Homo sapiens: one gene and its partners. The protein of the gene in region 3 interacts with the protein of the main gene of each other region in a biochemical or structural test. Each region holds a gene or a part of one and is shown on either strand. Other genes may lie near its edges. The genes, in order: TANC1, LRP2 and DLG4.

Evidence for each region.
Region 1: the proteins of DLG4 (region 3) and TANC1 interact in a test that uses a peptide from one of them, tested with the Homo sapiens proteins (2 studies listed by IntAct, with this or other methods).
Region 2: the proteins of DLG4 (region 3) and LRP2 form a complex in vitro, tested with the Homo sapiens proteins (2 studies listed by BioGRID and IntAct, with this or other methods).

What each region holds. Positions count from the first base shown.
Region 1 is NC_000002.12:158,971,581-158,975,326, reverse strand, and holds part of TANC1 (protein TANC1), read right to left. Parts: intron 1-3,746. UniProt on the Homo sapiens protein: May be a scaffold component in the postsynaptic density.
Region 2 is NC_000002.12:169,360,522-169,364,267, forward strand, and holds the start of LRP2 (low-density lipoprotein receptor-related protein 2 precursor), read right to left. Parts: upstream 2,014-3,746; 5' UTR 1,879-2,013; coding exon 1,800-1,878; intron 1-1,799. UniProt on the Homo sapiens protein: Multiligand endocytic receptor. Acts together with CUBN to mediate endocytosis of high-density lipoproteins. Mediates receptor-mediated uptake of polybasic drugs such as aprotinin, aminoglycosides and polymyxin B.
Region 3 is NC_000017.11:7,189,882-7,193,627, forward strand, and holds part of DLG4 (disks large homolog 4), read right to left. Parts: intron 3,704-3,746; coding exon 3,602-3,703; intron 3,237-3,601; coding exon 3,064-3,236; intron 2,122-3,063; coding exon 2,012-2,121; intron 1,478-2,011; coding exon 1,386-1,477; intron 934-1,385; coding exon 827-933; 3' UTR 1-826. UniProt on the Homo sapiens protein: Postsynaptic scaffolding protein that plays a critical role in synaptogenesis and synaptic plasticity by providing a platform for the postsynaptic clustering of crucial synaptic proteins.

The DNA of each region.
Region 1 (3,746 bases), on a different chromosome or scaffold from region 3:
TATAGTAGTAAGCACAGTCACCCCCCTCCACACCCAACCCTCCATATCTCAGGTTCCATGGCCACAGATTCAACAAACCTAGGTTAGAAAATATTCAAAAAATATTCTAGTAACTGACCACTGGAAAAAAGATAACAATACAATAAACACAATAAAATACAATAAATACAATAAAAATATAAATTTTAAAACAATACAGAATAACAACTATTTATCTAGCATTTACATTATATTAGGTATTATAAATAATCTAGAGATGATTTAAAGTATGAAGGAGGACTGGGGGGTTGGCTCATGCCTGTAATCCCAGCACTTTGAGAGGCCAAGGCAGGAGGATCACTTGAACCAAGAGTTGAGACCAGCCTGGTCTGGTCTCATAGTAAGACCCTGTCTCTACAAAAAAAAAAAAAAAAAAAAAATACAAAAATTAGCTGGGTGTGGTGGTGTGCACCTGTACTCCCAGCTACTTAGGAGGCTGAGGTGGAAGGATTGCATGAGTCCAGGAGGTTGAGGATGCAGTGAGCCATGATCACACCAGTGCAGTCCAGCCTGGGCAACAAATGGAAACCCTTTCTCAAAATAAAATACAAAGGAGGCCAGGCAAGGTGGCTCACGCCTGTAATCCCAGCACTTTGGGAGGCTGAGGCAGGTGGATCACCTGAGGTCAGGAGTTCAAGACCAGCCTGGCCAACATGGTGAAACCCCATCTTTACTAAAAACACAAAAATTAGCCAGGCGTGGTGGCACATGCCTGTAATCCCAGCTACTCGGGAGGCCGAGGCAGGAGAATCACTTGAACCCGGGAGGCAAAGGTTGCAGTAGCTGAGATTGTACCACTGTGCTCCAGCCTGGGTAACAGAGTGAGACTCTGTCTCGAAATAATAAAATTAAAAAATATATATATATGAGGGTATGCATAAGCTATATGCAAATAATACATGATTTTTAATAAGGGACTTAAGCATTTGAGGATTTTAGTATCCGTGGGAATCCTGGAACCAATCTTCCATAGGTATCAAGGATGGTTATAATGTTGTAAACTATTGCAGCAATGGCCCTCAATGAATCATGTAACCACCACGGCACCAGTGAGCCTAGGCACAGGGAACCTGGCCCCCATTTCTGAATCCCAAGCAAATAAACAGTTGTTGTTAAGCCACAAGAAGCAAGGAGGACCAGAACACAGAATGCTGTTGTATGGTGACCATCCCTGCCATAGTATTCTACGTATGTAGGACAACAGGAGAAGAAAGAACCAAACTGTTTCATCCACAGACTTTTAAAATTCAAACATGTAGTTCAGAGTCAGCCGGCACTCAATAAACATTAATAATTAATGTTACTTATCCCAAGTAATTTAGAACAAAGCATGGCAGAGAGAGGGGAGTGTAATGGGTTACATGGGAATAATGACCAACTCTTACGTTTTTAGCAGTAATTCAATACCCCCTCATGTCTGTGTACATAGCAATTCAGAGTCCCACAGAATGTGGACAAGTCCACTGCCCTCAAGACTACAGGGGTGTACATCACAACAACATTAAGAATCTTCATATCCTTTGGTATGTTGTTATGATCAGCAGTACCACTTGTGGAAATGTACACTGCCCTGGCTAGCTCTTTTGTTGATCCAGCTCCCTCCCTCTTCCATTAACAATAACCCTCTTCTTTGTGGGATACTTTGTCTCCCCACAGCCCCATTTTATGGGTCTAACCGTAACTCTCCTTTGGCTGGCATCAAGCCAATTCGGGTTCCCTCCAGGGCTTTCCCAAATTGGAACTAACATCAAAAAGGCCAATTCTGGATGTGAGGCTTGAGAGCTATAATACCAGCAGCCGTATACGTATGATCTTTTTCATATTTCTTCAAAAGCTCATGCAACAGAGGATCCCATTTTTGCATGGGTATACATGCATGAAAAGGTCACAGCTGAGTGCTTCTGAGAGACTTCCCTACTCTCCACCCCCATCTCCTACCCAAAGAGGTAATAAGCCACTGTTCATGACTGGCACGTAACCCTAGGTGTGCTGAGGTGGGGCAGGGAAGAGGTTGAGTCACTGTGGCTCTGGGCTATGTGAACTGAACATGATGGGTTCGCATCTGTCTACCTCTACAACTGGAAGGTTTCCCCTAATAAATTCCCTCATGTTAGCGAAAAAATCTGTGCTAAAATCCAGGAACTATGTCATCCCTCTGCAACACTTTTGTCCTTGACATTCTGTCTATGGAACTCTTCTTTCTAGAACATTCTCCTTGATCACACCCACCTGCAGGGGAACCTAAAGACAACACCGACCCTAGAAGGGCAAGTTCCATCAGCAACACAGCTAAACCAAACCAGGAGAACTCCTTTCACTCTCCACAAGATAATGTCCTCTGAAAGCCTTCTTCAAAGTCCTCTATCATTCCAAATCCATGCTCCTGATAATATTATTAAAAACCAAGAATCATTCTTCTCCTTTGCTGCTCTTGTGCCCTCCTGGTACAAAGTGTCCCAACTTCTCTAGCTAATAGCACTTCATAATGTTCTCTTCTCTCACTCATGGAAATGGCGGCAATTTCAGATATACTACACCTCCTTCCCAGCCAATGAGCACTGATACATCTTCTTATTGAGGTTTAAACCCCATTGCTTAATATTTTGAAAAGACATTCCTCTGAGAATAAGTTTAAAAAGCTGAAGATGGACAAGCTGCTCAGACATAAAAGAGCCTACAGCTTAACACATAATTGCATTTTAGAACCTGTTAAAGAAAATCAATACCAGCCTCCAGATGAGTGTCAAGCTGCAGTGAGTGCTGCTAACTAGGCAAGCAGGACAAAGCACAAACATTTAGAGACACAGCAAAAATGGGTCACCTGCAACCTACTACCTCTTTACCATCAACCCAACAGCATAAGGGAAGGATGTATTTAGCATGGAAAGTGCTGCAAAATCAGACTTATCCAGCCATCAGTAGGAACAGTCCAAGAATGATGACACCAAAAAAAGGAATACTCACCCAGGCTTTGCAATTAGGCTGAGAGATACCAAGATCAAAGGCAAATGATATGTTCATTTTTTATTTTTAAAAAGAGGTACAGATTTGAGAAGTGATTTCCTTAAGAATGCTGTCTGGGTTACTAGTCCGGATTATAAATCACATTACACCCTGAAGCCTACTTAATAAAAAAGAAGTTGAAAATAAACAAATGATTAGTTTGAAGCATGTGACTTTCTGAAACTCTCTTGAGGAGAAAGTTTTATTACCATTATTGGTGAACTGTTTTTAATCCCTGACATCAAAGCATAGATGTTAACCCTGGGGTTCTGAAATCAAAATAACTCATATATAACCCTAAAAATGTATTGTGAGAAATTGCCACATATTAACTTTAGTCTGTTTGGCAGGTTTGAATAAACAGAGGAGAAGAGACTAGGGAGAATCAGAAGACTCTGGTTCAAGTTCAACTCAACTATTTATAGATGATACAGGTCTAATTTAACTTTCTAGGCCTTGGTTTATTCAAATAAAGGGTTAGGGATAAAATGTGTAAATCAAGCCCTTATAAACCCCATAGCAGTGTTCTAACATTACAGCACTGGCTTCAGAATTCCTACATTTCTCAAACTTTTGGAGAGTCACAGAACTTTAGGGATGCAAGGTAATCCCATTTTAGGGATGAAAAAAATGAGAAAACCAAGACCCAGAAAGGCTTAAGAGTTCTTTGTACAGTGAACACTTTCATAACGTGGGGAGAAAGG
Region 2 (3,746 bases), on a different chromosome or scaffold from region 3:
CAGGAAAAAGAATATCTGTTTTGGTTGTACAAGGACATAGATGAATCAAGGTAAGATTTCCTTTTGCCAGGCACTGACAGGAACATATAGTAAATCCTATAGCTATATTTAGGACATGAGATACAACCCTAAGCATTGTGCAAACTCTGCACAATAATAATAAACCCTCTTTCTGCGTTACCAACACTGAGAAAGGGTGTTCAAAGGAAGGTTATTAATGATCTCTCCTTGCCTCTCCTGCCTTTCTGAAGACTTTTGCAAGACCTGTGGGGTTTGTTAGGGTTTCCAAACTTCTTCCCAGGAAGTCTGAAATGGGTGCTGCTAGGAGTTGCTGTATAATTACTTACTTGATTCCCTCTAAGGAGCTTACGCTAAGAATTGAGGAAAGAAAGCAGATTAACCATTTGAATACATGCCACGGCCCATCCACAAGCCCTCCCCTCACTCCTCCGTAAATGGGGGCTTCCACATTCCCCACCCATCAACCCCAATATGTGATCCAGGAAAATCAATTTATTGCTTTGGCTAATCCTACAACAATAGGGGTTTCATTTTCATTGTAGGGCAATTAAGTTGTCCGACGGGAGGGAAGGAGCAGGAGGGGAAAGGGGGGACTCTCCCATCCCCACAGACAGATTAGTCCCTGCGGTGGCAGCAGCGTCCCCTCTGTCTGTCTGGTGGTCGGTCACACGCAGCTCCCGGCTGCTACCTAGCAACGCAAAGCCAGGGGGAGAGCTCGCCGGTTCCAGCCTCCTCCTCGCCCTTCCCATTCATCCTCGGCCGGGTCTCTGTCTCTCTGTCTCTCTCTGTCTCTCTCTGTCTCTCTCTGTCTCTCTCTCTCTCTCTCTCTCTCTCCCTCTCTCTCTCTCTCTCTGTCTCTCTCCTCTCTCTCCTCTCTCTCTCTCTTCTCCCGCCCCAGTCGTTCTCTTCCCTCCTTCTTTCCTTATTCCTATTTGCTTCTCTTACGCTCTCTCCTCTTCCCTTCTTACTAGTTTTATTCTCTCCGCTTCTTTCTCCCTCTCTTTCCCTCTTCTCTGTTTCTGTTAAAACATAAACTATCGGACAACTTGAGAGAAGTTTAAAGCACTTCATACTAGAAACTTTCTGCATTCGATCCCCAAAACTCTGGCCATGCAGACGGGCCCCATTCATCAACACAAAAGCCCCCAGCTCCCAGCTGGAAAGGAAAACTTCAAGAAAAGACTCCAGTCCCTCAGCCACTCTCTCGGCCAATCCCACCTCCCGGCCTTATCTTGGCTCGTAAATGATCTGTATGGTGAGAGCGGTCTCTGGGGGTCACCGCGGGACCAAGTTTCGCCGGTGGTGGGAGGAGTGCTCTGGCCCGCGGCCCTGGGCGCGCGAAGGGATCCCGGGAGGGGCGCTGCAGGTGGAAAGCTGCGCTCTGAGCAGAGCCCGGGACCGCGCCGCCCAGCAGAGAACTCCGCTAGGGAGGGCAGGCTGCAAACGGCGGAGAACCTCGTTCTCCCGCAAAGTGCTTTCCAGGAGCATCGGACCAACGCCCGTGGGAACAAAGACAGGGTCTCCGTGGGGTGCGCTGTCACCGAAACTGGCGGGGCTGCTTTCTCAAGTTTGCTGCCGCTCAGTTCCTGGCGAGCGAAGAGGGGCGCTCCCGCTCCGGCTTCGCGAAGCAACCTGAGCGCCCCACCGGGAGCAGCTCCCGCGCCGCCGCCCGGCCCTAGCCCCTGCCCGGACGCTCTCCCCTCCGGCCTCCCGCGGACCCGACCCTGCCACAGCCGGGGAAGTGGGGGCTCCACGAGAGGCTCTGGCTGGGCTCTTACCTTGGCCACTGGCCGGCGCTAGGCAGGCGACGAGAGCCAGGAGCAGCGTGCACGCCACTGCTGCCGGCCCGCGATCCATCTCCGCGACGGTCCCCGGCCTCGCCGTTCCTTCCCCGGGAGGTGGGCGCGCGTAGCACACCGCACCGGCAGCGCCTCTGCTAGCGAACGCTCCTTTAGGTCTGCACCTCCGCCAGCTCCTAGTGGCCAAAAGCCTGCCCCCACGCCCGAGGCATCCCGTTTTCTACCCGCGCCAGTCCCCACCCTCCAGACAGTGCATAAAGCCCTTTAGACCCGACCGCCCCGGAACAAGCATGCGGGAATCCAGCGGGCAGGCCCCCTGCCGCCCGGCCCGCCCCCTGCACTTTGCAGCGCGGGGAGGAGTGGGCACTCGAACACACGCGTGCTCACACAGGGACACTCACACAGGCGTGTGCACACTCACACACGCACTCATACAGGCGCATGCACTCCTAAGTGTCACACCAACTGACACAGATTCACTCATACACGCCAGTCACACACGCGCGCACATTCCACAGTCACACTTCAACGCCGACATACACAGTCCCCTTTACGCGTGCATACAAGAGCACACTCCTGTGCGCACACTCTCACAGGCACACTCACACGTGCACACGCGCTGCCCTCGCCTCTCCGCAGGGTTTGCCCCGCACAGAAGCCGGCGAGGCGGCTCACGGGGAAATCTGCACGGACGCAGTTTTACTAAATGAGCAATGGAAAGAAATGGACGAGGAGGAAAGTCAAGAATAGAGAAGAGAAAGAAAAAATAAGAAATGGAAAAGGAAAGCACAACCAGACAAGTAAAAATGAAGGAAAGAGAAAGAAAGGGAAAGAGGCGGGGGTAGGGAAGGGAAGGAGTAAAGAGCCTGCTGGATGGAGATCTGTGACCTTCATTCCTGGCCTGATCTCTCTAGGCTCCTTCGGATATCTTGGTTTCCCCTGATAGGATACAGGCTGCTGAGATGGGGTGCTTTGTGTTTTTACAAATTAGAGAGGGAGGTGGATCTTTGTTGGGGAGGTTGGATCCTTATTTAGCAATTATTCAGCACCACATCTACAGGTGTCATGGCCAGATCGTGCTTCTTACAAGTCTGCTCATTTTGAAGCAAAATTGAAAAAGAGCGAACGTCTTCTCCATGGTTCCGGTACCCTTTTATAAGAAGGAGAAACACGAGAGGTTCAGGGAACCCCTAGCCTCCCTTCTTTGGGGCCGCTTTGGACAGGCTGGCAAGGGGCCCGGAAGCCAAAAGCACAAGTGGCCTTACACCCGCCCTCAGCGCACGTCCTCAGCCTGTACGTGACATCAGAGCCCACAGGGAGGGGTAAAAAAGGAGGGTTGATGCAAGTTATTTCCCGGTGGTGGGAACCCTGTGTGAGAAGGGGCTGTTTGCGGGCCTGAGGCCATCCCATCATCTCCAGCTCCAGCCCCTGAACCAGCGCGGCAGCTAGTCCCAGGCTCCGGATCCTGGTCCAAGAAGTCAGGAGCCCTTTCCCTCCAGCGAAGGGGCCGTGACGCATGGAGGAGACAGCCCTGAACGCACGTGGTCGCTGGACAGGTTCCCGCTGCCTCCCTTCCCCAGGGGCGAGAACCTGCCAATTACTGCCAGCCCCTTTCCCCGGGGCACAGGTCGTCCGGGGCTCTGCTGACCCCAACAGTCCGGATCGCGTAGCTTCCGTGGGCTGCAGTGGTAGGCGCAGCTTTAGGTGTGGGGGCTAGGGGAGGGAAAGGATAGGTGTTACTTTGGAAAGACAAAAAGAGATAAATAGACACAAAAAGAGAAAACTTAGGCTTAAAGAAAAAAAGGTGGAGCGGGCAGCGTTGTGGGAAAGAGTGGGAGAGATTCCTGGATTGGGAAATCCAGAGGTCTGTGCTCTGGCCAAAGTCACTGGTTCTCTATTTGCCTCCCTGCATAGTGTTGGGCGCTG
Region 3 (3,746 bases):
ACACCAAGTTTCAAGTATCTGTCTCTTCCTTTCACTCTCTCAAAAGAAAAAAATAAATAAATTGCAGAAGGCGGCAGCATTTCCAGTCTTCCCTGGCTCCCGGACACCCGACCCCCGACCCCTGCCCCCCACCCTCCCTCCCGCATTTCCCACTCCCTAGACCCATCCCTCCCTTTTCCCCAAAAAAATTCCCAGGAAAAAAAAAAAAAAAAGCCACATTTAGACCTTCCACTCATGCAAACCGGCAAAGAAAAATGGTGGGGGCATGTGGAAGGCAGGGGCCCGCTGCGGAGTCCCCTGCTTCTCCCCCCAAAAAACCACCTTTGAGAAGAAAAAAAGTGGAAAAAATAAATGAGAAATCAAGGAACATGGGGAATTACGATGAGGGCAGGGGTGACCCCAGACCCTGCCTTAGGAGAGAGCGGAGGCCTGTGGCCCTGCATCCCTGCAGCGGGTGCTCCTCGAGGGGGCCCTGACTTCTGGAATGTGTGTGGGAGAGGATGGGGGAGGGCAGGTGGCCCCCGGTGGGTCTGTGTGTGCATTGGGGGCAGGTGGGGGCGGGGATCCTAAGGAGCAAGGGCTCGGAACAAGGAGCCCAGCTCCCCCCCAGACCCCAGGTTCCTGGCGTTCAGGAGCCCAGTTCTGGGGTGCGGGGATACATGCAGAGGAGTGTCCCCCCTCCAACAGGCTGGATCCAGTTAGAAAGGAAATAAATAAGAAGGGGTGGGAGGGAGGCCGGGGGGAGCCAAGGGCTTGGGCAATTCAGTCCAGACCAAGGGCCCAGGTGATGGAGGCAGGGCGAGTCCAGGCCAAGCCAGGGCAGGAATCAGAGTCTCTCTCGGGCTGGAACCCAGATGTAGGGGCCTGAGAGGTCCTCGATGACACGCTTCACCTTGTGGTAGATCTCCTCAAAGCTGTCACCCTCCACGATGGCTGGGAGTGGGGTGGAGCAGGGAGTGAGGCCAAGGAAGGGCCAGAGGACACCTGGCCAAGGGGGTTGCACCAGCCCAGAGGAAGGGGCACCTCTTTCCAACTCTCCAAGCCATAAGTCCTGGGGCTGCACCCGCCCACAGGGGCACCTCTTTTTTTTTTTTTTTTTTTTTTTTGAGATTGAGTTTTGCTCTTAGCGCCAGGCTGGAGTGCAGTGGTGCGATCTCGGCTCACTGCAACCTCTGCCTCCCAGGTTCAAGCGATTCTCCTGCCTCGGCCTACCGAGTAGCTGGGATTACAGGTGCCCGCCAGTGCTGGGATTACAGGCGTGAGCCACCATGCCGCGCCCACAGGGGCACCTCTTTCTAAGCCATCCACTGGGGGTGGCGGGGGAGCTCTTTCTAATCCGAGCAAGGGCACCCTACATGCTGGCAACAGCCTTGCTGTGGCCTCACCTGAGAAGCACTCTGTGAACTCCTGCTCCAGCTTGGTGGCTCTGTCGAAGGCTTTGCGGGCTTGCTCCTCTGTGATCCGCTTGTTAATCTCTCTGTGAAGAGGGAGGGAGAGCAGGCCTGAGACTGGACCCACCTGACCCTGCCTTTTATCTCCTCTATCCAGGAATGTTAAGTATTCTTCTATTTGGAGCACATAGCAAAAAAAAAAATACAATTCCCAATATCCTCTGGGGCCACAGATGAGAACCACCCCCCACCCCCCTGCCACCCGCAACCGCCCCAGCCAGGTGTGGCTACTCCAGGGACATCTACGGAGCTTCATCCTTCCAGCCTTCAGCCCCAGAGATGGGATTCGGACTCCAATTCCCAACAGCCCTAGAGGCCCTGACTCGCCCCAGCTGGTATGCCCCAGGGGCTGCTGGGAAATGTAGTCCTGTCTAGCCAAGGCAGGAGAGGAGGGGAAAGACCCGATTCCCCCACATCCTCTGGGTTCCAGGGATCCCCCTCAGGGGCTGCTGAAACCGCTGTCCAGGGTTCTGAAGGGAGAGTTGAACGCAGACGCCTTGTGAGGCCCAGGGCCACAGGTGTTGGGGGAGCAAAGGGGAGGCCCCCAGGACCATACTCACAGCACATTCTCCAGGGAGCGGGGGCGGATGAAGATGGCGATGGGGTGCAGGTGGGCCGCCTGCAGCCGCCGCACGGCATTGGCCGAGACATCGAGGATGCAGTGCTTCCCCTGGGGGCAGGCAGGGTGGGCGGAGGGGGGCCAGCGGGTGGCGAGAAAGGACAGAGAGCAGTGCCGGAGGGACACGGACGGGGAGAGGTGGGGAATGGGAAGTTGGCCGAAGGGGAGTGACATGGATGTCAAGAAACACGGGGGCAGAGAGTCAGGCAGGAAGCGGGTATGGACAGAGTAAAAGACAGAGGGAAAGGAAAGGGAAGATGGAGAGCACGGGAGAGGGCAGGGACAGGACAGAATGGAGGAAGGGAGGAGCACCAGGCAGGCAGGGACCCAAGAGATGGTGGCAGAGCCGGGGCAGCAGCGAGTGGGGCGGGGTGTGCAAGGCAGAGGTGACACAGGCGGGAAGGAAAGCCAAGAAAAAGGAGAAAGGAAGTAGGATAGAGGGAGGAGGGAGGGGAGGACGGACAGAGGACAGACAGATGGAAGGAACAAGGAGACAGATGGGAGGGAGTGAGGCAGATGGAGAAAGGAACCGTGGAGGGAGGGAGGGAGGGCAGGGTGAGGAGCAGCGGGGAAAGGAAAGGAGTTAGCAGAGGAGTGGGAGAGGGGAGCCGGGCCCCAGAAAAGGGTGAGGCAGGGGAGAGGGCCAGCGGGGAGTCAGGAAAAAGGGAGGGACCCAGTGGGGAAGGCCAAGCCACCAAAGACAAGGCCATGGGAAGAGAGGAGAAATGGGGCAAGGAGAAGGGAGTGGGGAGAGAAAGAGGCCAGATGGTGGTGGGGAATTTGGGGTCAGGAAGTGAGGGAGGTGGGAGAGAGAGCAGGGGCAGAGAGCAGGCAGTCAGACAGAGTTGCCCAAGAGGAGAAGGAGGTGGAGGAGCGGAGTGGAGACCCAGCAGGGAAAGAGACAGAGAGAGAGAGAGTTAGAGAAAGCTGGAGGGAGGCAGTGGGGTGGGGAGAGGGGAGAAGGAAGAGGACCGGGTGCCCGCCAGGTCCTACCTGCTCTGCCACCTCTCGCACGGACTGGACGCTGGTCCCATAGAGGTGGCTGTTGTACTGGCCGGCCTCAATGAACTTGTGCGCCTGAATGTCCTTCTCCATTTTCTCCCGGGACGACACAAAGTGGTAATCCCGGCCATCTATCTCATACTCCCGCTTGGGCCGTGTCGTATCTGCCAGGAAGTCACCCCACCCCCCAAAGATCTAACCACCATCCCTCTAGCTTAAATCCTGCCTACTTCAATCAAATCCCCATAGTGCCCAGCTGGTCCTTTGGTGAAAGGGAGCTGCCAGGGAGACCAAGACTGCAGAGGGCCAGAACCGCTTCCCCTAGCACCCTCCAGGGCCTCCAAGTCTCTGGCCTGGGCATGGGTACTATGGAATGAGAGGGTGGCTGAGAAGCACCCCTTCTCGGAGAAACCCTGTATCTCCCTACACACCGATCCCCCAGGAGGCTCTGCCTATGGCCCCAGGGATGGGCCTCCCCTGCCCCACCCCCACTTCCACCTTCTCCTCCATCCAAGGCCCCAGCACTCACGGGGAACACAGGATCCAAACTTGTCGGGGAACTCGGAGAGAAGATCATCGTTGGCGCGGTCCTTGGTGGGCCCAAGGATGATGATGGGGCGAGCATAGTGCACTGCAGAGAGAGCCTGGCTTAGGCCGAGCGCAGGGTTGGGGGA